2 separate regions of the Homo sapiens genome follow, and region 1 is linked to region 2. Evidence: fine-mapped expression QTL. A gene starts in region 2. The other region holds a variant in brackets. All regions are shown on one strand. Distances are from middle to middle. Region 1 holds the start of LOC101927829 (a long non-coding RNA gene). Region 2 holds the start of SGO1-AS1 (SGO1 antisense RNA 1).

Region 1 (17,367 bases), 170 kb before region 2:
AATACTTTACAGACAAGCAAATGCTGAGAGATTTTGTCACCACCAGGCCTGCCCTAAAAGAGCTCCTGAAGGAAGCACTAAACATGGAAAGGAACAACTAGTACCAGCTGCTGCAAAATTATGCCAAAATGTAAAGACCATCGAGACTAGGAAGAAACTGCATCAACTAACGAGCAAAATAACCAGCTAACATCATAATGACAGGATCAAATTCACACATAACAATATTAACTTTAAATGTAAATGGACTAAATGCTCCAATTAAAAGACACAGACTGGCAAACTGGATGAAGAGTCAAGACCCATCAGTGTGTTGTATTCAGGAAACCCATCTCACACGAAGAGACACATATAGGCTCAAAATAAAAGGATGGAGGAAGATCTACCAAGCAAATGGAAAACAAAAAAAGGCAGGGGTTGCAATCCTAGTCTCTGATAAACAGACTTTAAACCCACAAAGATCAAAAGAGACAAAGAAGGCCATTACATAATGGTAAAGGGATCAATTCAACAAGAAGAGCTAACTATCCTAAATATATATGCACCCAATACAGGAGCACGCAGATTCATAAAGCAAGTCCTGAGTGACCTACAAAGAGACTTAAACTCCCACACATTAATAATGGGAGACTTTAACACCCCACTGTCAACATTAGATAGATCAACGAGACAGAAAGTCAACAAGGATACCCAGGAATTGAACTCAGCTCTGCACCAAGCGGACCTAATAGACATCTACAGAACTCTCCACCCCAAATCAACAGAATATACATTTTTTTCAGCACCACACCACACCTATTCCAAAATTGACCACATAGTTGGAAGTAAAGTTCTCCTCAGCAAATGTAAAAGAACAGAAATTATAACAAACTATCTCTCAGACCACAGTGCAATCAAACTAGAACTCAGGATTAAGAAATTCACTCAAAACTGCCCAACTACATGGAAACTGAACAACCTGCTCCTGAATGACTACTGGGTACATAACGAAATGAAGGCAGAAATAAAGATGTTCTTTGAAACCAACGAGAACAAAGACACAACATATCAGAATCTCTGGGACACATTCAAAGCAGTGTGTAGAGGGAAATTTATAGCACTAAATGCCCACAAGAGAAAGCAGGAAAGATCCAAAATTGACACCCTAACTTCACAATTAAAAGAACTAGAAAAGCAAGAGCAAACACATTCAAATGCTAGCAGAAGGCAAGAAATAACTAAAATCAGAGCAGAACTGAAGGAAATAGAGACATAAAAAACCCTTCAAAAAATTAATGAATCCAGGAGCTGGTTTTTTGAAAGGATCAACAAAATTGATAGACCGCTAGCAAGACTAATAAAGAAAAAAAGACAGAAGAATCAAGTAGATGCAAAAAAAAATTATGAAGCGGATATCACCACCAATCCCACAGAAATACAAACTACCATCAGAGAATACTACAAACAACTCTACGCAGATAAACTAGAAAATCTAGAAGAAATGGATAAATTCCTTGACACATACACTCTCCCAAGACTAAACCAGGAAGAAGTTGAATCTCTGAATAGATCAATAACAGGTTCTGAAATTGAGGCAATAATTAATAGCTTACCAACCAAAAAAAGTCCAGGAACAGACGGATTCACAGCCAAATTCTACCAGAGGTACAAGGAGGAACTGGTACCATTCCTTCTGAAACTATTCCAATCAATAGAAAAAGAGGGAATCCTCCCTAACTCATTTTATGAGGCCAGCATCATTCTGATACCAAAGCCAGGCAGAGACACAACCAAAAAAGAGAATTTTAGACCAATATCCTTGATGAACATTGATGCAAAAATCCTCAATAAAATACTGGCAAACCGAATCCAGCAGCACATCAAAAAGCTTATCCACCACGATCAAGTGGGCTTCATCCCTGGGATGCAAGGCTGGTTCAATATACGCAAATCAATAAATGTAATCCAGCATATAAACAGAACCAAAGACAAAAACTACATGATTATCTCAACAGATGCAGAAAAGGCCTTTGACAAAATTCAACAACGCTTCATGCTAAAAACTCTCAATAAATTAGGTATTGATGGGACGTATCTCAAAATACTAAGAGCTATCTCTGACAAACCCACAGCCAATATCATACTGAATGGGCAAAAACTGGAAGCATTCCCTTTGAAAACTGGAACAAGACAGGGATGCCCTCTCTCACCACTCCTATTCAACATAGTGTTGGAAGTTCTGGCCAGGGCAATTAGGCAGGAGAAGGAAATAAAGGGTATTCAATTAGGAAAAGAGGAAGTCAAATTGTCCCTGTTTGCAGATGACATGATTGTATATCTGGAAAACCCCATTGTCTCAGCCCAAAATCTCCTTAAGCTGATAAGCAACTTCAGCAAAGTCTCAGGATACAAAATCAATGTACAAAAATCACAAGCATTCTTATACACCAATAACAGACAAACAGAGAGCCAAATCATGAGTGAACTCCCATTCACAATTGCTTCAAAGAGAAGAAAATACCTAGGAATCCACCTTACAAGGGACGTGAAGGACCTCTTCAAGGAGAACTACAAACCACTGCTCAATAAAATAAAAGAGGATACAAACAAATGGAAGAACATTCCATGCTCATGGGTAGGAAGAATCAATATCGTGAAAATGGCCATACTGCCCAAGGTAATTTATAGATTCAATGCCATCCCCATCAAGCTACCAATGACTTTCTTCACAGAATTGGAAAAAACTACTTTAAAGTTCATCTGGAACCAAAAAAGAGCCCGCATCACCAAGTCAATCTTAAGCCAAAAGAACAAAGCTGGAGGCATCACGCTACCTGACTTCAAACTATACTACAAGGCTACAGTAACCAAAACAGCATGGTACTGGCACCAAAACAGATAGTGATCAATGGAACAGAACAGAGCCCTCAGAAATAACGCCACATACTACACCTATCTGATCTTTGGCGAACCTGAGAAAAACAAGAAATGGGGAAAGGATTCCCTATTTAATAAATGGTGCTGGGAAAACTGGCTAGCCATACGGAGAAAGCTGAAACTGGATCCCTTCCTTACACCTTATACAAAAATTAATTCAAGATGGATTAAAGACTTAAATGTTAGACCTAAAACCATAAAAACCCTAGAAGAAAACCTAGGCATTACCATTCAGGACATAGGCATGGGCAAGGACTTCACAACTAAAACACCAAAAGCAATGGCAACAAAAGCCAAAATTGACAAATGGGATCTAATTAAACTAAAGAGCTTCTGCACAGCAAAAGAAACTACCATCAGAGTGAACAGGCAACCCACAAAATGGGAGAAAATTTTCACAACCTACTCATCTGACAAAGGGCTAATATCCAGAATCTACAATGAACTCAAACAAATTTACAAGAAAAAAACAAACAACCCCATCAAAAAGTGGGTGAAGGACATGAACAGACACTTCTCAAAAGAAGACATTTATGCAGCCAAAAAACATGAAAAAATGCTCACCATCACTGGCCATCAGAGAAATGCAAATCAAAACCACAATGAGATATCATGTCACACCAGTTAGAATGGCAATCATTAAAAAGTCAGGAAACAACAGGTGCTGGAGAAGATGTGGAGAAATAGGAACACTTTTACACTGTTGGTGGGACTGTAAACTAGTTCAACCATTGTGGAAGTCAGTGTGGCGATTCCTCAGGGATCTAGAACTAGAAATACCATTTGACCCAGCCATCCCATTACTGGGTATATACCCAAAGGATTATAAATCATGCTGCTATAAAGACACATGCACACGTATGTTTATTGCGGCACTATTCACAATAGCAAAGACTTGGAACCAACCCAAATGTCCAACAATGATAGACTGGATTAAGAAAATGTGGCACATATACACCATGGAATACTATGCAGCCATAAAAAATGATGAGTTCATGTCCTTTGTAGGGACATGGATGAAATTGGAAATCATCATTCTCAGTAAACTATCGCAAGAACAAAAAACCAAACACCGCATATTCTCACTCATAGGTGGGAATTGAACAATGAGAACACATGGACACAGGAAGGGGAATATCACACTCTGGGGACTATTGTGGGGTTGGGGGAGGGGGGAGGGATAGCATTGGGAGATATACCTAATGCTAGATGACGAGTTAGTGGGTGCAGCGCACCAGCATGTCACATGTATACATATGTAACTAACCTGCACATTGTACACATGTACCCTAAAACTTAAAGTATAATAATAAAAAAAAAGGTGTAGTGCTAATTTTGAAAGTCATGGTTTTTTTTCTGCTTACTTGAAACCATATTTTATTTGTAAATTTGTATACATTAAATGAAACAACAAAATCATTATATGTTTTTCCAAAATCTATAGTTAATAGGTCCTCTTTAAAAGCCACTTCCACCCCCTTACCCTCCAACCATCACACAGCCCCAGAAAAAATCCAAATGATCTGAAGTGTCAGATGCTCATCAGTATAGACATTTTTGTGCTGGTTTTACTAAGACTATAATCTTAGGAATGCAAAAGAAACTAATCCAGATTCAACCATCGAAACTAACAGACTTCTGCATTTGTATACTACATGTTACTCATGAGTAAGAACAACTATTCTCTAAAAATTAGAAACATCACCTGGGGAGGGATACTTGATTTTTTAAAATTTTATAGTAGATGGTGCTCTCTATTCTTCAGGAGAACTGTATACATAACCATTTCTCTCATTTGCAATCACTGCTCAATGGGCTCAATCTTTTATACAAACAACTCAAAAACCTCCACTAAATTCATTCTCTTTCTCCCTCTTGATATCTACACAATCACTCCCTAAAGATAAGCCTGTTATATAGTGGAAATAGTAAATACCTACCCTTCTCTCCCAGCACTTCATCTATTAGGAAAAGAACAGATGCTGGGTCAGTCATGTGCTAAGAATGAATGACATTAACACATCAGAAAAGTTGCTAGGGAGGAACACAACCCAAATGAAAGATCAGGGAAGGGGTGAGTCAGCAACGCTGGAGGAAGTCAACATCTGTGGCTTCTTGCTGGAGGGAAAGAAACAGTCCATTATCAGTAAACGGTGCTGGGAAAACTGATATCCATGTGCAGAAGAATGAAACTAGACCCCTATCTCTTGCCATATGCAAAAATAAAATAAAAATGGATGAAGGACCTAAATCTAAAACCTCAAACTATTAAACTACTACAAGATAATATTGGGGAAAGTCTCTAGGCCATTGGTCTGAGCAAAAATTTATTGAGCAATACCCCACAAGCACAAGCAACCAAAGCAAAAATGTACAAACGGGATCACAGCAAGTTAAATAGCTTCTTCCCAGAAAAGGATACAATCAACAAAGTGAAGAGACAACCCATATAATGGGAGAATGTGTTTGCAAACTACCCATCTGACAAGAGGGTAATAACCAGAATATGTAAGGAGCTCAAACAACTCTATAGAAAAAAATGTAATAATTTGATCAAAGAATAGGCAAAAGATTTCAATAGACATTTCTCAAAAGAAGACATACAAATGGCAAACAGACATATGAAAAGGTGCTCAATATCAAATCACCATTTGATTTGCATTCGAAATGCAAATCAAAACCACAATAAGATATCATCACACCCTAGTAAAAATGCCTTATATCCAAAAGACAGGCAACGACAAATGCTGGAAAGGAGGTGAAGGAAAGGGAACCCTCATACACTGTTGGTGGGAAGATAAATTAGTAAAAACATTATGGGGAACAGTTTGGAGGTTCCTCAAAAAAACTAAAAATTGAGCTACCATGTGATCCAGCAATCCCACTACTGCATATATACCCCAAAGAAGGGAAATCAGTATATTGAAGCGATATCTGCACTCCTATATTTGTTGCAGCACTGTTTACAACAGCTAAGAATTGGAAACAACCTGTGTTAATCAAGATATGAATATATAAAGAAAACGTGGTACATATACACAGTGGAGTACTACTCAGCCAAAAAAAGAATGATATCCTTTCATTTGCAATAACGTGGATGGAACTGGAGATCATTATGTTAGCTAAAATAAGCCAGACACAGAAAGACAAACACCACATGTTCTCACTTATTTGTGGGGTCTAAAAACCAAAACAATTGAACTCATGGACAAAGAGAGTAGAGGATAGTTACCAGAGGCTGGGAAGGGTAGTTGGGGGCTGGTGGGGTGGTGGAGATAGTTAGTGGGTACAAACAAAATAGAAAGGATGAATAAGACCTACTATTTGATAGCACAATAAGGTGACTATAGTCAATAATAACTTAACTGTACATTTCAAAATTACTTAAAGAGTGTAATTGGACTTTTTGTAACTCAAAGGATAAATGCTTGATGGGGTGAATACCCTATTCTCCATGATGTACTTATTTCACATTGAATGCCTGTATCAAAATATCTCATGTACTCCATAAATACATCCACCTACTATATACCCACAAAAATGTTTAAAAATTGAAATTAGAGGAAAGAAACAGTTCATAGATCTTGCTAGGTCTCAGCTTCACTATTGGGACACCTTAAATGGAGGAAAAACTTTACATTTTCTTTGTTTATTCATTCAACATATATTTATTGAGAACCTATTATACAACAGGTGCAGTCACTAGGAACTTACAAGATAATTAGGTACCTCTTTGTATGGAGCTTGTGTTCTAGTCTGGAAACTCCATATTACACTTTCTACAAGTCAAAGATGCCAAGGGAGCCCCACATGCTTTTCTTAGAAAAATAAATTGAAAATAAGTTATTTTTATGATCTTAGACTTCAATTATAAAGCTTCTAAAAGTATCCTTCCATGGTTTAAGATAGAAATCTCAGGACTTCGGTTTCTGAACTAAAAATCAGAACATAACTTCTGACAAGTAGTAGTTCAGCCATTTATCCAAAGACCTTAGGAGAGAGGTTTTTTTCCCTCCTAAGGTCTTTAAATACATTATTTGATTTGCTCCTGTGAGTTAGGTATTGGATCCCCATCTTCAGCTGAAAAATACAGAGCTTCAGAGAGATTAAATAGAGTCCCAGAGAAGCTAAGTAAGGTCACATATCCGTTCTTTCATTTTTGTTTATTTATTGAGTATTCATACTTACACATATTTATTGGGCATCCATATATTTTGGAATGCATTTATTGGGCATCCACTATCAATCATGGTGTGTGTGTATATTAGCCAAGGTTCTCCAGAGAGACAGAGAGACTTACAGAAATTGGCTCATGAGATTATGGAGGCCAAGAAGTTCCATGATCTGTTGTCTGCAAGCTGGAAAACAAGGAAAGCCAGTGGTGTGATTCAGTCTGAGTCAAAAGGCCCAAGAACCAGGTGCACCAATGTCCAAGGGCAAGAAAGGATGAGTGTCCCAACTAAACAGAAGCAAATTTGCCCTTCCTCTGCCCTTTTGTTCTATTCATGGCCTCAACAGACTGGATAATACCCATCCACATTGGTAAGGGTGATTTTCTTTACACAGACTCCCAATTCAAATGCTGATCTCTTCCAGATACACTGTCACAAACACAGACAGAAATTGTGTTTTACCAGCTATCTGGACGTCCCTTACCCCAATCAAATTGACACCTAAAATTAGCCGTCATGGTGTATACATGCTATTCTGGACAGGAAAGAGAACAATGAACAATAGAGACACCTCCCCTCTCCCGATCCCACCAAAAGAAAACACACCTGCCCTCATGGAGATTGCCTCCTGGAAGGAAGAAAAAAATGTACATGAATAAAATACATGCTTATTAGATAGTAAAACATACTAAAGGGAAGAATAAAGCAGGGGAAAAGGAAAGGATATGTTCACGTAGGTGCTTCAATTTCAGATAGGTAAGCCAAGGAAGGACTGTCTTAAAAATATGACAGGTAAGCAAACAGCCCAGGAGGTGAGGGAGTGAGCTATGTGGTTATGGGAGATGAGAGGAGCCCTCCAGTGTGAGATTACATAAGTGCAAAGAGTTGGGAGAACACTGACCCGAGTTGGGAGAATGCTGGCCTGGGTGGGGAGGACGCTGGCCTGTTGGAGTTTAGTCATGAGACCCACGGGCTGCAGTGGAATAATCAAGGGGATAAGCAGTAATAAAAAGGGTCAAGGAAGGAAAGAGATGAAAGACCAAGCCAAAACTTCAGCATTTACTCAGTCATTGTAAGAACGTTGGCTTTTACTCAAAGCTGAATCAAAGGAGGGTGCAGGGTATTGGAAAGGTGTGGTGTGACTTATATTTTAAGAGAATCACTTTGCCCGTTTTGTTGGGAATAGATGGTAGGGACCTAAGGGCAGGAGCAGTGAAACTAAACAGATTGCTCTTGCAACAGTCCCAGTGAAAGACAACTGTGGCCTAACCGGAGCTGTAGTAGTGAAGATACTGAGAAATGGCCATCCAGCTTCTGCATGTATTGTGAAGGTGGATCCAACAGGATTTTCTGACAGATCAGAAGTGGGTTGCAAGAATAAGAAAATAATCAGAGATTACCCCCCAATATTTTTGTCCTGAATAACAGGAAGAATAGATTGTCATTTACTGCAATAAGGAAAGATAATGGGACAGAATCCTTAAACTCAGAATCCATAAGGACTGTAAACTATAGGACAAGCCTAGTTCCATGTGAATTGTAATCTAAAAGTATTGTTTTCGTTTTCACTTTTCTAAATAACAGCAAGAAAAAAGCAAGCAGAAAGCAAATAGGGAAATAGACTTTTTTTTTTAATTAGTAAGAAAGTCTTTTTATAAACCTGTCATTCTGGATTTGTTTTTCACTGTTTCCCTGGCATATTTTCTCATTTCTACCAAAATCGATGTCTTAGTTTGGGTTCTCACAATTCTCAGCAAGCAGAAGCGTGGGTCACAGAAGTGGAACAGGGGAAGAGGGTCAGCCAATGCAAGGATGCATGGTGGAGCTAGTAACAACTGTGGGCAATGAGACTCAGTCCCAGTGGGTCTCTCTGAGAAGCCATGTAAAATGCATGTCAGAATTGTCCCTGTGACAACTCTGGGACATTTTCCACTGTCTTCCACCTCCGTTAGTTGAAGGCTGTCACCACAAACATGGACTCTGCCATTCTTATGGACAGTCTTTGTGGTGCTAAGCAGCCTTTGTAGGCATCAGAGGAAGCCCTGAGGCCAAAAATCAGAGCAATATCATAGTCAACACTTGAGTTGGGACACTGTCAATGTGCATGGAATTGTCTAAGTCACCTGACCTTAAATTAGGTGGGAAGGGGGTGATATGCCATGCAAGTCATCGCAAATGACTGCTACACTATGTTATCCGTGCTTCCCTACACCTGCCTTGTGCTTTCACCTCTCTATGCTTTGCTTGCTCTGTTTTTCTTCCCATCGCACTCCCAAACCCCTTATTATCTATGAGTTGTGACCAGCAGTCAAAGTTCTGGTGAAATTTCACTTCCTTTCAAGAACCTAGGACTATTTCCAGTTAGAAGTGCCTTCCACTCTTCTTAATGCCTACAGCATGAACACCCTTAACTTTGGACACTTAACTTCAATGCCTTATGGACAGTTAAATCTTTACATACATGCTTTAGCTTGCCAAGTAGATCTGGCCATCCTGGCCACATGATGGCCAGAATTCTTTGTATCCACTCTGTTGATTTATCCTACCCCATATAAGTGGATTTGACCTTCTCTGGTAGCAAAGAGGGGCAAAGAGAACAATCAAAATGGTCACCAGCATCTTGGGTTGCATCAGAAAGCCACTAGGAGAATGAACTTCCTTTATTCTCCCCAAAACTGACAGGCAGAACAGGCAATTCCACAACTATAAACACTTGGCATATTTACTCTGCTTGAAAGTCTCTGAAAACTCTAAAAAAAGTTAAGATTTTTTTTTTTTAATGAACCCTTTTGGCCAGGTGCAGTGGCTCAC[A/C]TCTATAATCCCAGCAGTTTGGGAGGCTGAGGAGGGAAGATCATTTGAAGCCAGGACTTCAAGACCAGTCTGATCAATATGGTGAGACTTCATCTTTATAAAAAGAAAAAAAAAAGTTAGCCAAGCGCGGTAACATGTGCCTGTAGTCCTAACTACTGAGGAGGCTGAGAAGGGAGGGTCCCTTGAGCCCAAGAGTTTGAAGCTGCTGTGAGCTATGATCGTACCACTGCACTGCAGCCTGTGTGACAGAGCAAGATCCTGGCTCAAAGAAAAAGGTCAGGAGCACCCTTTTTACATGGCAGGGAGGGGTATGGCTTGAAATAGCCTGATTAGGTTACAAATTGAATACATCTTTCTGCTGATTCAGATATCAGGTATAGGCTAGACAAAGGTAATAGCCAGAAAACTTCATTCCTCATATATTATATTTTGCAAATGGAAGATGAGTCTACAAACACAAGAAAAATGGGTGTAGTGGCAGACTCTTCTCTCAGAAAGGCAATGACATAGGCATAACCAATAATAGTACATACGGCCTGATAGAGGGAAGACAGGTGGGAGAAGCAGGGTCCTTGAGCATATTAAGAGCAACCCTAGATGTGGTAATATCTTGGTGGTTATATTATTTTTAATATCCTTATCAGTTAGAGATCCATACTGATATATTGATGTACAGCATAAAATGAGTCTAAAATTTGCTTTTAAAAATGCCAGAAAAAAAGATCACAAAATGTTTATATTTGTTAAAGCTAGGTCATGGGTACATGAGCAAAATCTATTTTGTATATCTGAGAATTTTCATTATAAAATATTTTTTCAAAAGAGCAACACACTAGGTCAGAAACTTGTGTACAGCTGAGGTATCAAGCTGTGAGCCTCTAACTGTAGCAGCTGCTATAGCACCAATAAATAGAAAATTCATGAACCTTTATTGCTCATCATCACTCAGGCATTGCTGCATGGAGTGGGAAGGTTTCCCCACACTAGGGAACGGGGAGTCCTGGTGTAGTAAAAAATGTGATCGCAGTCTTGGTTGCCTGCACAAACTCTTCCCAGATCCCACCCTGTCTCCCTTTCCCTCTCAGTATAGTTAACAGAATGTCACAGCCACAGAGTCCCTTGCTCTTCACCATATCTGCAGCTTCAAGCACCTTGTTGACCATAACATTTGTTTTCTTGCTGACCAATTCATATTCCTCTAATCCTGCTATTTCAATACATTTAATTCTTACCCAAAAACAAGAGCATGACCTCCTCTAATAGAGTAATTTCCCGTTCATATTACTTAACTGAACAATGTTTTTTGATACTAACATGAATATCTCCCCTATTCAGTAATAACTACCATTCTGCCATTCAGCTTGTTTTCTAAATTTAATCTCTCTCAAAAATGGATTCAGGTCTGCATTGACCCAAACTCTCCTTTCCAACCAATATTTCCTTCACTTTCCAACTACCATAGCTCAGAACTAAGCAAAGGCTGATATCTAGTAAACAGTCCTTAGTTTTACTCATTGAGCTACTAACTAAATCCAGAGATTTAGGCATGAAACCTTCATTCGTTCATTCATTCATTCATTCATCCAAAAAGCAATTAACAAGCACCTATTATATGCCATGTCCTGGATCTATGAAAATAAATTAGGTGTCAACTTTGAAGAAAGTCATAATCTAACAGGAGATAAGTATATAAGCAGCTGCAATTAGGTTATTTTTCAAAATGTAGTTAGAAATATATATTTAATATGTATAATATATAGTAGACATATATATATTTCTAACTACATTTTGAAAAATAACCTAATTGCAGCTGCTTATATACTTATCTCCTGTTAGATTATGACTAACATATATATATGTCTAACTACTGTATATTTATTAAATATGTATTTCTAACTACTATATATTAGAAATATATATAGAAATATATTTCTCTGTGTGTGTGTGCATATATATATATACACACACACACAAATACACACATATATACTAGATTAAGTGGCAACATCAATGATATACTCACTTTGACTTCTTGGAGTTAGAAGGTGGAGGTATGTAGAGGAGGCTTCCCAAAAATGAAAAAAAATTTGATTTTAGCCCTACAAGATGGAATAGCAGTTCGTCAGGCATATGTAAAGAATTGGAGATACAGGCCAGGCGCAGTAGCCCATGCCTGTAATCCCAGCACTTTGGGAGGCCAAGGCAGGTGGATCACCTGAGGTCAGGAGTTCGAGACTAGCCTCACCAACATAGAGAAACCCCATCTCCACTAAAAATACAAAATTAGCCGGGCGTGGTGGTGCATGCCTGTAATCCCAGCTACTCAGGAGGCTGAGGCAGGAGAATCGCTTGAATGAACCCAGGAGGCAGAGGTTTCAGTGAGCCGAGATCATGCCATTGTACTCCAGCCTGGGCAACAAGAGTGAAACTCTGTTTCAAAAAAAAAAAAAAAAGATTTGGAGATATAAATTAGTAAAACTGTGTGAAGCTAAAATTAACAATGGGAAATCGTAAGACATAAGGTAGGAGGGGTAGAATATAAAGGTTCTAATGCTGTGTACTTTGAGACTTACTCCACAGAAAATAGAAAGTCACTAAAAGCTTTTAAGTAGAGCTGCCAAACAACAGTATTTGCATTTTAGAAAAATTACCCTGGAGTAGAGTAGGAGATGACTTTGAAAGCTTGGGGTGAGGCAATGGAGCAGAGCAATGAGGCAGCATCAGCAGTTACAGGATGATCATAGCTATTCAAAGGAGAGAAGATGCAGACCTGAATAAGGTGAATTGGACTGATCCATAAATGAATGTACCAGCCTGATTTAAACTTTTATTTTTCCCTAAAAGGGCATTTCTTCTAATAAGTTATCCTGAGCATTTTTAAGGGAAAAATCTAGGAGCAGAGGACAGATTATATGGTTTGGTTGGCTCTGTGTTCCCACCGAAATCTCATCTCAAATTGTAATCCCCATAATCCCCACGTGTCAAGGGAGGGAGCTGGTGGGAGGTGATTGGATCATGGGGGCAGTTTCCTCCATGCTGTTCTCATGATAGTGAGTTCTCACAAGATCTGATGGTTTTATAAGTGTTTGACAGTTCCTCCTTCACACTCACTCTCTCTCTCCACGTGCCATGTAAGACATGCCTGCTTCCCTTTCTGCCATGATTGTAAGTTTCCTGAGGCCTCCCCAACCATGAAGAATGGTGAGTCAATTAAACCTCTTTTCTTTATAAATTACCCAGTCTCAGGAAGTTATTTATAGTGGTGTCAGAAGGAACCATACAACAGATAACTAAGAAATCTACAAATATGGTATATACACCATGCTATTCTCTATTACTCATTCAAAGTTTCCCTTTTCTCTCCCTCCCCAAGTGCTTTCAGCATGATCAGGTTTCATGTCTGTGCCAACCTCCTATCAGCCATTTCTTGTCTTTTTTCTTTCTAATTTTGAGCTCTGACCTTTACTGTTATTCAAATCTTGGTTTTATACTGCAAAGGCTCTTAATTCCAGAATGATGGCCAAGTGAGCCAAACACATTTACCTAAGTGGACAAGAATGTGACATTGTCATGCAGCCATTGTGATGTACCAAAGTCAAGATTGATTTTGACAAGAATAAAAGCTTTCTGTCCTGCTGCCCCTGCTTTATGGGATTTTTAGGGTTTGGAGAAATATCCATTGTCTCTCCTAAAATTCTTGAATGCCCATGTAAGATTGAATGCTATTTCGATAAATAAGCCATTTAATAGTGACAGTTTATATACCAGAATTACTCAGTTGGCTGTTCTTGAATTGTTCATTTTATTTGTCAAGTTCAGGGGAAGTTAGTTTTGGCCAAGTATTTTTTGAATTTTGTTGCAAAATCAAGTTCCAGGTGGTGAGGTCCCAAATAACAGAAGATATGGCAAAAGTCTCAAAAGCATTACAGGTTTAATTAAATTAGTGTTTATTGACCACCAACATAGGTATATTCTATTATAGATAAGCTAGAGTCCATTCTTTGAGAGAAACAAGCCAGGCAATTCTTCGAGGCAGACAGTTACAGAACTGACCTGTACAGACAGGTACAGATGGTATACCAAGCAGGGTTCCTGACGTCATTGTTGCATGGTCGACATCCAATTTGACTGCTACATCCTCCTTTTCATGGAGCCTTGACCACTTCTGCCCTTCTCTCTACATCTTTTTCCTGGCTTCCAAGAACTAAAAGACTGTTCCCAGCTGTCCTAATGATCCTACTTTTCCACCATTCCAACATATCCCTTGATCTGAAATTGCCCTTTCCTTTTCCTTCTTCAATTCCCTCCAAACAAGACCTCTATTTCACCTTCTAAGTTAGGTGTTAGGAGAAAAGCAATCAAAATGCCTCCAGACTAAATCAATTCACACAGAAGTATAGGTGGTAGGAGGCTTAACTTCTATGGCAGCTTTTAGAAGACCTGTTATTCCAAATGGATCTTTGATTGGTGGGATGTGTGAAGGAGTCATTTTTGAGACGTAGGGAATCATACTTTTTTCTTATCTGTTTATGCTGGCCAGAGGCCCTACTTTCAATTTATTTTCTGCACAAAAATCCCCTTCTGAACTAAAGCCAATGCATGCTATTTGGTTTACTTATACCTTAGTGCTGTGATTCTCTAGCTTAGGTCACCAGGTCATAATAAAGGACCACAACAGGAACCTGGCTTGGTTTTACATTTCTTATAGTCTGTAGTTGAGTTCCTTCTCTAAAGCCATGTTCACACATCTGAAATTTTCCTAGATAGACTTTTATGGCTTCTGGTAAAGATAAAAGTTATATTGATTTTCTGTTGCATTGTTAACTTATCAAATAGCAAAATATTTAATTTGGAAGATAAAAAATAGTTTTAAATTTTTTCTTAAAAATGGTGGTAGAATAGTGACCACACTGCATACCCTCTTATGAGAGTGAATTAACATGGAGACCACAAACAGAGGAGTTAATTACATCTTTGTGGTATTACATCCTAACATCAACTCTGCATATGGATAAACCTGCCCTTAGAAAATCCCTAACATCCCCCATTAAAAAAAAAAAAATGAGCAATTAAGAGCCACAAACACTGTTTCTCACTAATCCTGTTACAGTGAGGTCTGCCTCCCATATCAGTTCAGATTGCTGTTTCTTCAGTTGCCCACCAGATAAAACCATGATTTGCATTCAGGGACTACATTGTAAGAAAAGTACGTTTCTTTTAATAGTAGACACACTTGGCCCTGGAATTCCTTTCAGTTAAATACCTACATAGATAGAGGTCACTGTATATTTGCCCCCCTTTGTTTAAAGAGCTAAAATTCTGTCCTCACAGTGTCTATAAGCTCGAGAATCACAGCACTAAGGTATAAATAAACTGAAGAGACTGTCCCTCATGCATGCTGTGACAGAAATCAGCTTTCAGACTAGGTGTGCTGAGTCCCAAACCTGTGCTACATCCCTGCTACAAAAACTGAAAAGCAAGCCTAAAATTCACTATAGGTTCCTAGAAAATCAAACCTTAGATATAAGACCAAGTTATACTATCTTATTCTCTCAGCAAATCCTTAATATGTTTCTTCTCTGTGCCAGGTGTTAGTTAAGCTCAGGTGATACAAAGTTGAATGAGATAGCACCCCTGCCTTCTTTGTCCCAGCTCATAGTTTAATGACATAATCAGGTGGTCACAATACAGTGTAATACAGTGCTGTGACAGAGAGAGAAGCTACAGACTGAGGGCACACAGGGCCAGGGCTCCTAACCCACCTAAGGCAAAGGGTAAGGCAGGGGACATCAGGGAAAACTATTAAAGAAGGAGGCATCCTGAGAGCTGGGATTGTATTTTTTATTTATGGTTTTATTTTTTACCTTTGTATTTTGATGTAATTTCAGGCTAACAAAAGTTGCAAGAACACTACAAAGAATTCTCATATGCCCTTTAACCAGATGTACTAAATGCTATTATATCAAATATGCTTACATACAGATATGCACATACACGCACAAACACACACACACAAATATACATTTCTTTTTTCAAAAAAAATTTGGGGCTGGGCGCGGTGGCTCATGCCTGTAATCCCAGCACTTTGGGAGGCTGAGGTGGGTGGATCACTTGAAGTCCTGACTAGGAGTTCCAGCCAGCCTAGTCAAATGGTGAAACCCCGTTTCTATCAAAAATACAAAAATTAGCTGGGAATGGCGGTGCACGCCTGTAATCCCAGCTACTTGGGTGGCTGAGACAGGAGAATCCCTTGAACCCAGGGTGTGGAGGCTACAGTGAGCCAAGATCGTACCACTGCACTCCAGCCTGGGCAACAGAGACTCTGTCTAAAAAAAAAAAAAAAAAAAAAAAAAAAAAAAATTGAGAGTAACTTACAGAAATTATGATGCCCCATTTACTCTTGAAGATTCTGGTGTATATTTCCTAAAAGCAAGGACATTCTCTTCTGTAGCCTACAAGTAACAAAATCAGGTAATCAATACTGATACAATACTACGATCTTATCTACAGACCTTATTCAAATTTCACCAATTGTCCCAATGTGTACTCTACAGCAGAAGAAATCCCCAGCTCATATGCTGCATTCAGCTTTCATGTGTCTTTAGTATCCTACAATCTGGAACAGTTTCAGATTCTTTCTTTGTCTTTCATGACCTTGTAATTTTTAAAGTGCAGAGTCTAGTTATTTAGTAGAATGTCCCTGAATTTACGCTGGGCACAGTGGCTCACGCCTGTAATCCCAGCACTTTGGGAGGCCGAGACGAGCGGACGACCTAAGGTCGGGAGTTCGAGACCAGCCTGACCAACATGGAGAAACCCCGTCTCTACTAAAAATACAAAATAAGCCGGGCGTGGTGGCACACACCTGTAATCCCAGCTACTCGGGAGGCTGAGGCAGGAGAATCACTTGAACCCAGGAGGTGGAGGTTGTGGTGAGCCGAGATTGTGCCATTGCACTCCAGCCTGGGCAACAAGAGCAAAACTCTGTCTCTCAAAAAAAAAAAAAAAAAAAAAATGTCCCTGAATTTAGTAGAATGTCTCTGGTTTGGAACTACTCTAAACTGTTTCTCGCGGTTAGATTTGGCATAAGCATTTTTGGCAGAAATATCACGAAGGTATGTTGCGCTTTTTGAGATGAGTTTCAAAGAGTGAAGAGGAATCAGCCCACATAACCTATTGCCATATTAATTTATTTTTGCATTCAGACTTGGGAGGATGGAAGACAGAAGGCAAAGGGATAGCCTATAATACTATTAAATAATATTTATCAAGTAGTTACCAAGCACTGTTTGGAATGTGTTACATAAGTTAACTTCATCATCTTCGCAACACCCTTATGACATCCTCACCATGACTATGCTTTTCCCATTTTTCCAATGAGAAATAATCAGGCACAAAAAGATGATGAAGCTAGCGCATGGTGCAGCCAGTATTCAATTCCGGGCAGATTGACTCTTGCCCATTCTGT
Region 2 (8,000 bases):
GAATGGACCCCAATAGTGATGACAGCTCCAGAAATTTATTTGTGAAGGATTTACCGTTAGTATCAAATTCTTTATCATGATTATTAATACTAAGAAAGGTTTAATTCTGTGATTCATTTATGAAAGGAAATGTGCATCATGTCAACTCTTATATTTGTAGTCTGTTGCTTTCTCTACTGAGAATATATTTAAGAGAATTTGATGTGTTGAAATTCTATTACATATAGCCAAGCTAAACCCTTCTTTTTCTTATATTTCACTCCTTTTTTGATGCCTAGGAAAAAGAAGCCTTACCACAGTTTTTAATTCTACTTCATACTTTCCTTCAGTCATACTTTTCTGTGTACCATGTTTTTATTCTAAGAAGGATTAGCTATTGAAATGAGATGTTTTGCCAGCCCTCTGAATAGTCTGGTTCAGAAAATAAATAAATAAATAAATAAATAAAATATCATATTTAACACAGTTGTCCCATTGTCTCGCTGATCCAGTTCATTTTTCTAGATCCCATATACCCTCCTCCCCTTCTCTTGGATCAAATGTACTTTGTTTGTTTATGAATTATTAAGATTTAATTATAAACAGTAAAATGCACAGATCACAGTTACAATTTGATGAGTTTGACTAATGTATATATCGTGGAACTAAAATTTCAATGAAGACATAGTGTTTTCACTGTTAACATTGTGGGCCAGATAATTCTTTGTTGTAGAGAGCTGTCTGTGCATGATGGGATGTTTAGCAGCATCCATAGCCTCCACCCAGTGAATCCCAGTAACATCATCAGGAGAACAAAAAATGACTTCAGATATTGTGGCATGTTCCCTGGAGAGCATAATTGCCCTTGGATGAGAACTACTGCCATAGACAGTTCTTTCGTATGCCTATCAAGTCCATCCCCTTCTCCACAGAAGTAACCACTAAGATGATTTCTATCACCATAGATTACTTTTAATCATTAGTAGTTTTTAAACTGTTGTACTTTAAGATCTGTTGTGGGCAAAAGGTAAGATAAGGTAATTGAATTTGTAGAAGATTTCTAAAGTAGTTATTATTTACCACAGCCATTACTTACCTAAATCTGTTTAATGTCTAGAGTAGAAAATTCTCTACAGAGAATAAAGAATAAAATTACAATTAGAATGAAACTGCCAGTAATAGTGTTAGAGTATAAAGAACACTTCATGTTTCATGAACCAAAGAACAACATTTGTAAAGAAAATGAACAATGTTAACTTCAGAAGAGTTCAATAGTTAAGCACCATAAAAGCATATATTACCAACAAATCACAGCTCTGCTAATGATAAAGCAGGCTCCTAAAGAGTTGAGTGATCAAACTACATTTTTTAAAAAACATTTAACAAATTAATTCTCATGGGCTGTTTCCGTAGTTAAATTGAGTTATATAATGTGTTTTCAGGTGGAACTCTCCAACTTGATAGGTTGGTTCTTCAAGTGGGAATTGAATGTCAGTCATAACAAATCAGTCTCCCTGTAATCAGCATAAGTGTCCTTTGGTTTCCTTTGATACAGAATAGATGTATTGATTTGAAATCGAATTATGAAATGATACTAAAGGAAAGAAAAATTATAATTTAGGAAAATACTGAATTTGTTTTTATTACATAATTGTTAAATTTCTGTTTTTCATTGGTATTTTCTAAGGCAAATTCCTCTTGAAGAAACTGAACTTCCAGGACAAGGAGAATCATTTCAAATAGAAGGTAATTCAAGTGAAAATCTAAAAATATTATTAAGGGCAAAATAAGGTCTTTGAGAACAAATAATACAATTAAATTTATCTAATTCTTTTTTTTTAACTTTTTAAATTTGTTCATCTGGTATTCTGCTCAAAGCAAATCTGTTTATTTTACACAGAGTAATAGAGTGTTAAAATATATTTATTGTGTCAAATCTGTAATCTGAATCTTTGGCTATAACTATGGCAGCAATTTACTGATTGCTACTACGTGTCAAGCTCTATGTTAGGCATTTTATGTGCATAATCTCACCTAACCCTCACAACAACCTAGGACTATAAGTACAGTTAGTCCTGTTTTATAGGAACTCAAGAAGGTAAAATATCTCACATGAAGAAGTCTAGATGTTAACAGCTAGCATTTAAAATCAAAGTTGAACTCCAAAGCCATCCCTTTCTTACTACTTTTAAATTGATATGTCCATGTTCTCAAGTGTCAATCTCCTCCACTTGAACCAAGCATTGAAGAAAGGATAGTATTTGAATAAGCAAAACCAGACGTCGAAGGAAGGATAGTATTTGAATAAGCAAAACCAGACATAGCCCCACTTTTCCTTAAAATACAAATTATATTTCTTACCTGAGAAGCTTTCTAGTTATTCAAATCTTATTTATTTTTCAAAGAACAACTTAGCTCCCACTTTCTCATTTGTCCCACTTTGGAATATGCGGTTCTACTTCTCTGAATCTGTACTCAATGATACATATAGACTATTCATTTTCTTTAAACCAAGAGCACATAAAAGCCTGTTATAATTTTTTTTTTTTTTGACAGTCTTGCTCTGTCGCCCAGGCTTGGAGAGCAGTGGTGCGATCTCAGCTCACTACAAGCTCTGCCTCCTGGGTTCACGCCATTCTCCTGCCTCAGTCTCCCGAGTAGTTGGGACTACAGGCACCCACCACCACGCCTGGCTAATTTTTTGTATTTTTTTTAGTAGAGACGGGGTTTCACTGTGTTAGCCAGGATGGTCTCGATCTCCTGACCTCGTGATCTGCCCGCCTCGGCCTCCCAAAGTGCTGGGATTACAAGCGTAAGCCACCGTGCCTGGCCTATAATGTTTTTAAAGATTATAAAGATTGAATGTCCCTTATCCAAAATGCTTGGGACCAGAAGTGTTTTGGATTTATTTTTTAAATTTTGGAGTATTTACATTATATCAGTTCATCATCCCTAATTTGAAAATCTGAAATCCAAAACCCTCCAGTTAGCATTTCCTTGGAGCATCATGACTGCACTAAAAAAGTTTTGGATTTCAGATTTTCAGATTAGGGATACTGAACCTGTACAAGATTCTTTCACATGTCAGATATAAGCCATCAGTTGATCACTGACAAGTAAATAGATGGTAATATTTAAGTTCCCAGGTTTTTATTTACAGATTTTATAATGTAGGAAAACTACAGAATGACCTTTTGGTCATTCACTTTTTTAGTTTGAATTCTAAAGTTCTTGAAATTCAAATTTCCACAAAGTAAAACTACTTTTCTCATTTATTTTTTAAATTCTCAGATCAGATACCTACTATTCCTCAAGACACACTGGGAGTTGATTTTGATTCAGGTGAAGCTAAGTCTACTGATAATGTCTTACCTAGAACTGTATCTGTTCGTAGCAGTTTAAAGAAACATTGTAACAGTATATGTCAGTTTGATAGCTTGGATGATTTTGAAACCAGTCATTTGGCAGGGAAGTCTTTTGAATTCGAAAGAGTTGGATTTTTAGACCCACTAGTAAACATGCACATACCTGAAAATGTACAACACAATGCTTGTCAATGGAGCAAGGACCAAGTTAACTTATCACCAAAGCTGATTCAGCCAGGAACGTTTACTAAAACAAAAGAAGACATTTTAGAATCTAAATCTGAACAAACTAAAAGTAAGCAAAGAGATACACAAGAAAGAAAAAGAGAAGAGAAAAGAAAAGCTAACAGGAGAAAATCAAAACGTATGTCAAAATATAAAGAGAATAAAAGCGAAAATAAAAAAACTGTTCCCCAAAAAAAAATGCACAAATCTGTCAGTTCCAATGATGCTTACAATTTTAATTTGGAAGAGGGTGTTCATCTTACTCCTTTCCGACAAAAAGTGAGCAATGACTCTAATAGAGAAGAAAACAACGAGTCTGAAGTGAGCCTCTGTGAATCAAGTGGTTCAGGAGATGATTCCGATGACCTCTATTTGCCCACTTGCAAGTACATTCAGAATCCCACGAGCAATTCAGATAGACCAGTCACCAGGCCTCTAGCTAAAAGAGCACTGAAATACACAGATGAAAAAGAGACGGAGGGTTCTAAGCCAACAAAAACTCCTACCAGTAAGTGATCTACTTGTTTACCTGTATTTTTAATGTTCGTGATAAATGATCACTCCTGATGCTTATATACTATACTTACCATCTGTTTCTCTGGTGGAGGTTGGAGACTTACCATCTGTCTCTCTTTGGTGGAAGTTATGGTCTGATTAAACAGTGGGGGGCTGGGTGTGGAAATCACAGTTGTATTGCTCTGACCTAATTCAGAGATTGCTTGTTATGGAGACAGAATTTTTATTTTCAGTAAATTAGGACTCCCAAGGGGACAGAGGGACTTTTTTGTAGACTTAGGTTGAATTGAAGTAGCTTTTATACACTTAACTGAAGTATCCCCTTGAAAGTGAAATCAAATTTGAATCCAGTGACTTGTTATTTTAATGGCCTTGTTTTATATTAAATTTGACAGGAACCGTGATTTAAAATAATCTTCTAGTTAGTGAAGATTTCCTCAATTGATAGGCTTAGTATTCTTTTGTACGACATCTCTAAAAACTGGCTCAGAAAATATTTTATTAGATCAAAAGTAGGCATAGTTCAAATGTTCGTAATACAACCTACACCTGTCCACAAAGATTCTCATTTGGCAATTTTAGTTAATACAAGTAAAACTAACATTTATAGTCAAGTTGTATCATTTTCAAAATATTGTCACATCATTTTATTTGATCCTCAGAACAATTCTGTGAAGTATAGGTGTTATGATGCTTATTTTGTTTGTAAGGAGATTAAAACCTTAAAAACCAAACCAACTTTCTAAATCGGCCAGTTAGTCAGTGGTAGCAGGCAAGTATCTTTTTTAAAAATATGCTGTAAGCCGGGCGGGTTGGCTCACGCCTGTAATCCCAGCACTTTGGGAGGCTGAGGTGGGCGGATCACCTGAGGTCAGGAGTCCAAGACCAGCCTGGCCAACATGGTGAAACCCCATCTCTACTAAAAATACAAAAAAATGAGCCAGGCCTGGTGGTATGTGCCGGTAATCCCAGCTACTCGGGAGGCTGAGGCAGGAGAAAAAGAATTGCTTGTACCCAGGAAACAGAGGTTGCAGTGAGCCGAGACCATGCCATTGCGCTCCAGCCTAGGCAACAAGAGCGAAACTCAGTCTCAAAAAAAAAAAAAGCAAAAATGCTATAATGATGTTAGAATAAATCAAACATGATTGTCAAAGTGTTGATAATTATTGGACCTGGGTAACTCAGAGTTTATTATACTGTTATTGCCATCTTTGTGTACATTTAAAAATGTCCAGAAAAAGTTGGGATTTTTTTGTTGTTGTTCACTTTTTAATTGAGACAGGGTCTTGCTCTATCACCTCGGCTGGAGGGCAGTGGCACTGTCATGGCTCACTGCAGTCTCAACCTCCCAGGCTCAAGTGATTCTTCCACCTCAGCCTCCCCAGTACTTGGGACTACAGGCATGCGCCATCACACCTGGCTAATTTTTTTTTTTTTTTTTTTTTTTTACTTTTTGTGAAGATGAGGTCTCACTGTGTTGCCAGGGTGGTCTCAAATTCCTGGGCTAAAGCAGTCCTCCTGCCTTGGCCTTACAAAGTGCTGGGATTACAGATGTGTGAGCCTGTATCCATAAAAATACATAAAATACATAAAAAATACGTTTTTAAACGAAAAAAATATACTCTAAAATGGTATTACTCAGAGTTTAATCCCTAGACGTCTTTTAAGAAATGCAGAATCTCAGGCCATACCCCATACCGTGGAGTCAGAATCTGCATCTTTTTTTTTTTTTTTTTTTTGAAACAGAGTTTCACTCTTGTTGCCCAGGCTACAGTGCAGTGGCACGATCTCAGCTCATCCCAACCTCCGCCTCCTGGGTTCAAGCGATTCTCCTGCCTCAGACTCCCGAGTAGCTGGGATTACAGGCATGTGCCACCACGCCCAGCTAATTTTGTATTTTTAGTAGAGACAGGCTTTCTCCATGTTAGTTAGGCTGGCCTCAAACTGCCAACCTCAGGTGATCCGCCCACCTCGGCCTCCCTAAGTGCTGGGATTACTGGCGTGAGCCACCGTGCCTGGCCATTAAGAAGTCCTCCTGTGGATTCATATACACATTAAAGTTTGAGAAGCATTTTTCCAGAATATAGCAACTGATCTGATATTGTTCCAAACAACATATTTCTCAAACTGAAAGTTGGAATAATTAATACAGTACAGTATATTTATGTGGGAACAAAAAGGACAGACTATAAAACCCAGATAACACTGGAGCATATGGCTCTTAGTATACAATCATTTCACAGTTATAGTTTTTACTTTTTTGGGGATACAGTTTGCTTTTTAAAGCTATTTGAGGAGATTGTTTTGCAGTGTCTTTACTATGTGTTGGACATTTGCCTCCCAATATAGGTGTAACTTCAAAGTATAATAACTTGGATGTTTATGATGGGAAAAACACTGAGTAACTTTTTTACATGCTAGCTTTTCTCCTGGTGTACACAGAGGCTGTTATTTAGAATTCTCATTTATTTAATAGAAGGAGTTTTAGCGGCTTTATAAGACTATAGGAAGAGACTTGATAATAAACCTTGGTATTGAAAGAGAGAGGACTTGATTCCAAATAGCAAGGTATGACTAAAATGAAATTCCATGGTTAAACAAAGTTATTATGCCCAAGCTATCCTAGAAGAATTTTAAGTTTTAGTAAAGTGTTCTGTTATAATTAATATTTCAACACTGTCTGGTTTGAAAGGAAGAGGAAAAAATGATGAAAAAGCTAAAAAAAGAATTTATTATTGGCTGGGCATGGTGGTGCATACCTGTAGTCCCAGCTACTTGGAAGACTGAAGTGGGAGGATTGCTTGAGACCAGGAGGCAGAGGTTGCAGTGAGCTGAGATCACACCACTGCACTTCAGCCTGGGCAACACAGTGAGAGCCCATCTAAAAAAAAATTCTATTATTAAATGCTGGATTTTGTGTACAGTTAAGATATATACAATTGAGTACAATTTAAGTTTTTGTGTGGGTTTTTTTTTTTAAATCATATTCAGTAAAAATTGTTTTGTAGCTACACCACCTGAAACTCAGCAGTCACCTCATCTTAGCCTGAAGGATATCACCAATGTCTCCTTGTATCCTGTTGTGAAAATCAGAAGACTTTCTCTTTCTCCAAAAAAGAATAAAGCAAGCCCAGCAGTGGCTCTGCCTAAACGTAGGTGCACAGCCAGCGTGAACTATAAGGAGCCCACCCTCGCTTCGTAAGTATTTGGTTTGTGGGAACTTATTTTTAATGATACATGTCGGGGGGAATAAGGTTATGGAGCTTTGTTCAAGAATGAGTTTTTTCTGAAATATAAACATTTGATTTAAAAAAACTGAAGTGAGAACATTTAAAATTGGTGTGTTTTACCATAACTTGGTAGGGAAGAGTAAGTTAATATTGGGATGCTTACATTATGCCTGAGATCTCTTTTTACTCTTACAGGAAACTGAGAAGAGGGGACCCTTTTACAGATTTGTGTTTTTTGAATTCTCCTATTTTCAAGCAGAAAAAGGATTTGAGACGTTCTAAAAAAAGTATGAAACAAATACAATGAAGGTTTTGTTGGATATTGTTTAAATTCAATCTACACCTCTTTCTGTTGCTTCAGGAGAGGATCTGTAAGAGTACACAAACAGAGTGAGCCATTGCCATAGAATATTCTCTTGACAGGACCCTAGCTCATAAACATTTCTTCAGAACTATACTTCAAATGGGATGCTTTGTATTAAAACTTTAATAAATTTAATTTATTTTTTCTTTTGAATATAAATAACTGAGCTTAAGCATTATCATCATATCGATTTCTTATGCTGCCTAAACCTCTTAATTTTAGTCGAAATATATCTTTTTTTTTTTTTGGAGGCGGAATTTCATTCTTGTTGCCCAGGCTGGAGTGCAATGGCACGATCTCAGCTTACCGCAACCTCCGCCT

Evidence for each region. PIP is the estimated chance that this variant, and not a neighbour inherited with it, causes the effect.
Region 1: its variant is the best candidate, but not a certain one, in a credible set for the expression of SGO1-AS1 in testis (GTEx, PIP 0.64).

The regions. Positions count from the first base shown.
Region 1 is chr3:20,340,622-20,357,988 of GRCh38, reverse strand. LOC101927829 (a long non-coding RNA gene) reads right to left here and starts at 15,521. Exons shown (of 5, transcript NR_110814.1): 1 at 13,953-15,521; 2 at 12,207-12,329; 3 at 11,923-11,964; 4 at 9,900-9,992; 5 at 7,061-7,274. The variant A/C (reference allele first, on the strand shown) is at 9,900.
Region 2 is chr3:20,170,326-20,178,325 of GRCh38, reverse strand. SGO1-AS1 (SGO1 antisense RNA 1) reads right to left here and starts at 4,040. Exons shown (of 4, transcript NR_132785.1): 1 at 3,801-4,040; 2 at 3,508-3,591; 3 at 1,076-1,109. It overlaps SGO1 (shugoshin 1), which reads left to right. Exons shown (of 8, transcript NM_001199251.3): 4 at 1-55; 5 at 1,667-1,725; 6 at 3,271-4,077; 7 at 7,094-7,283; 8 at 7,511-8,000. The coding sequence ends at 7,622.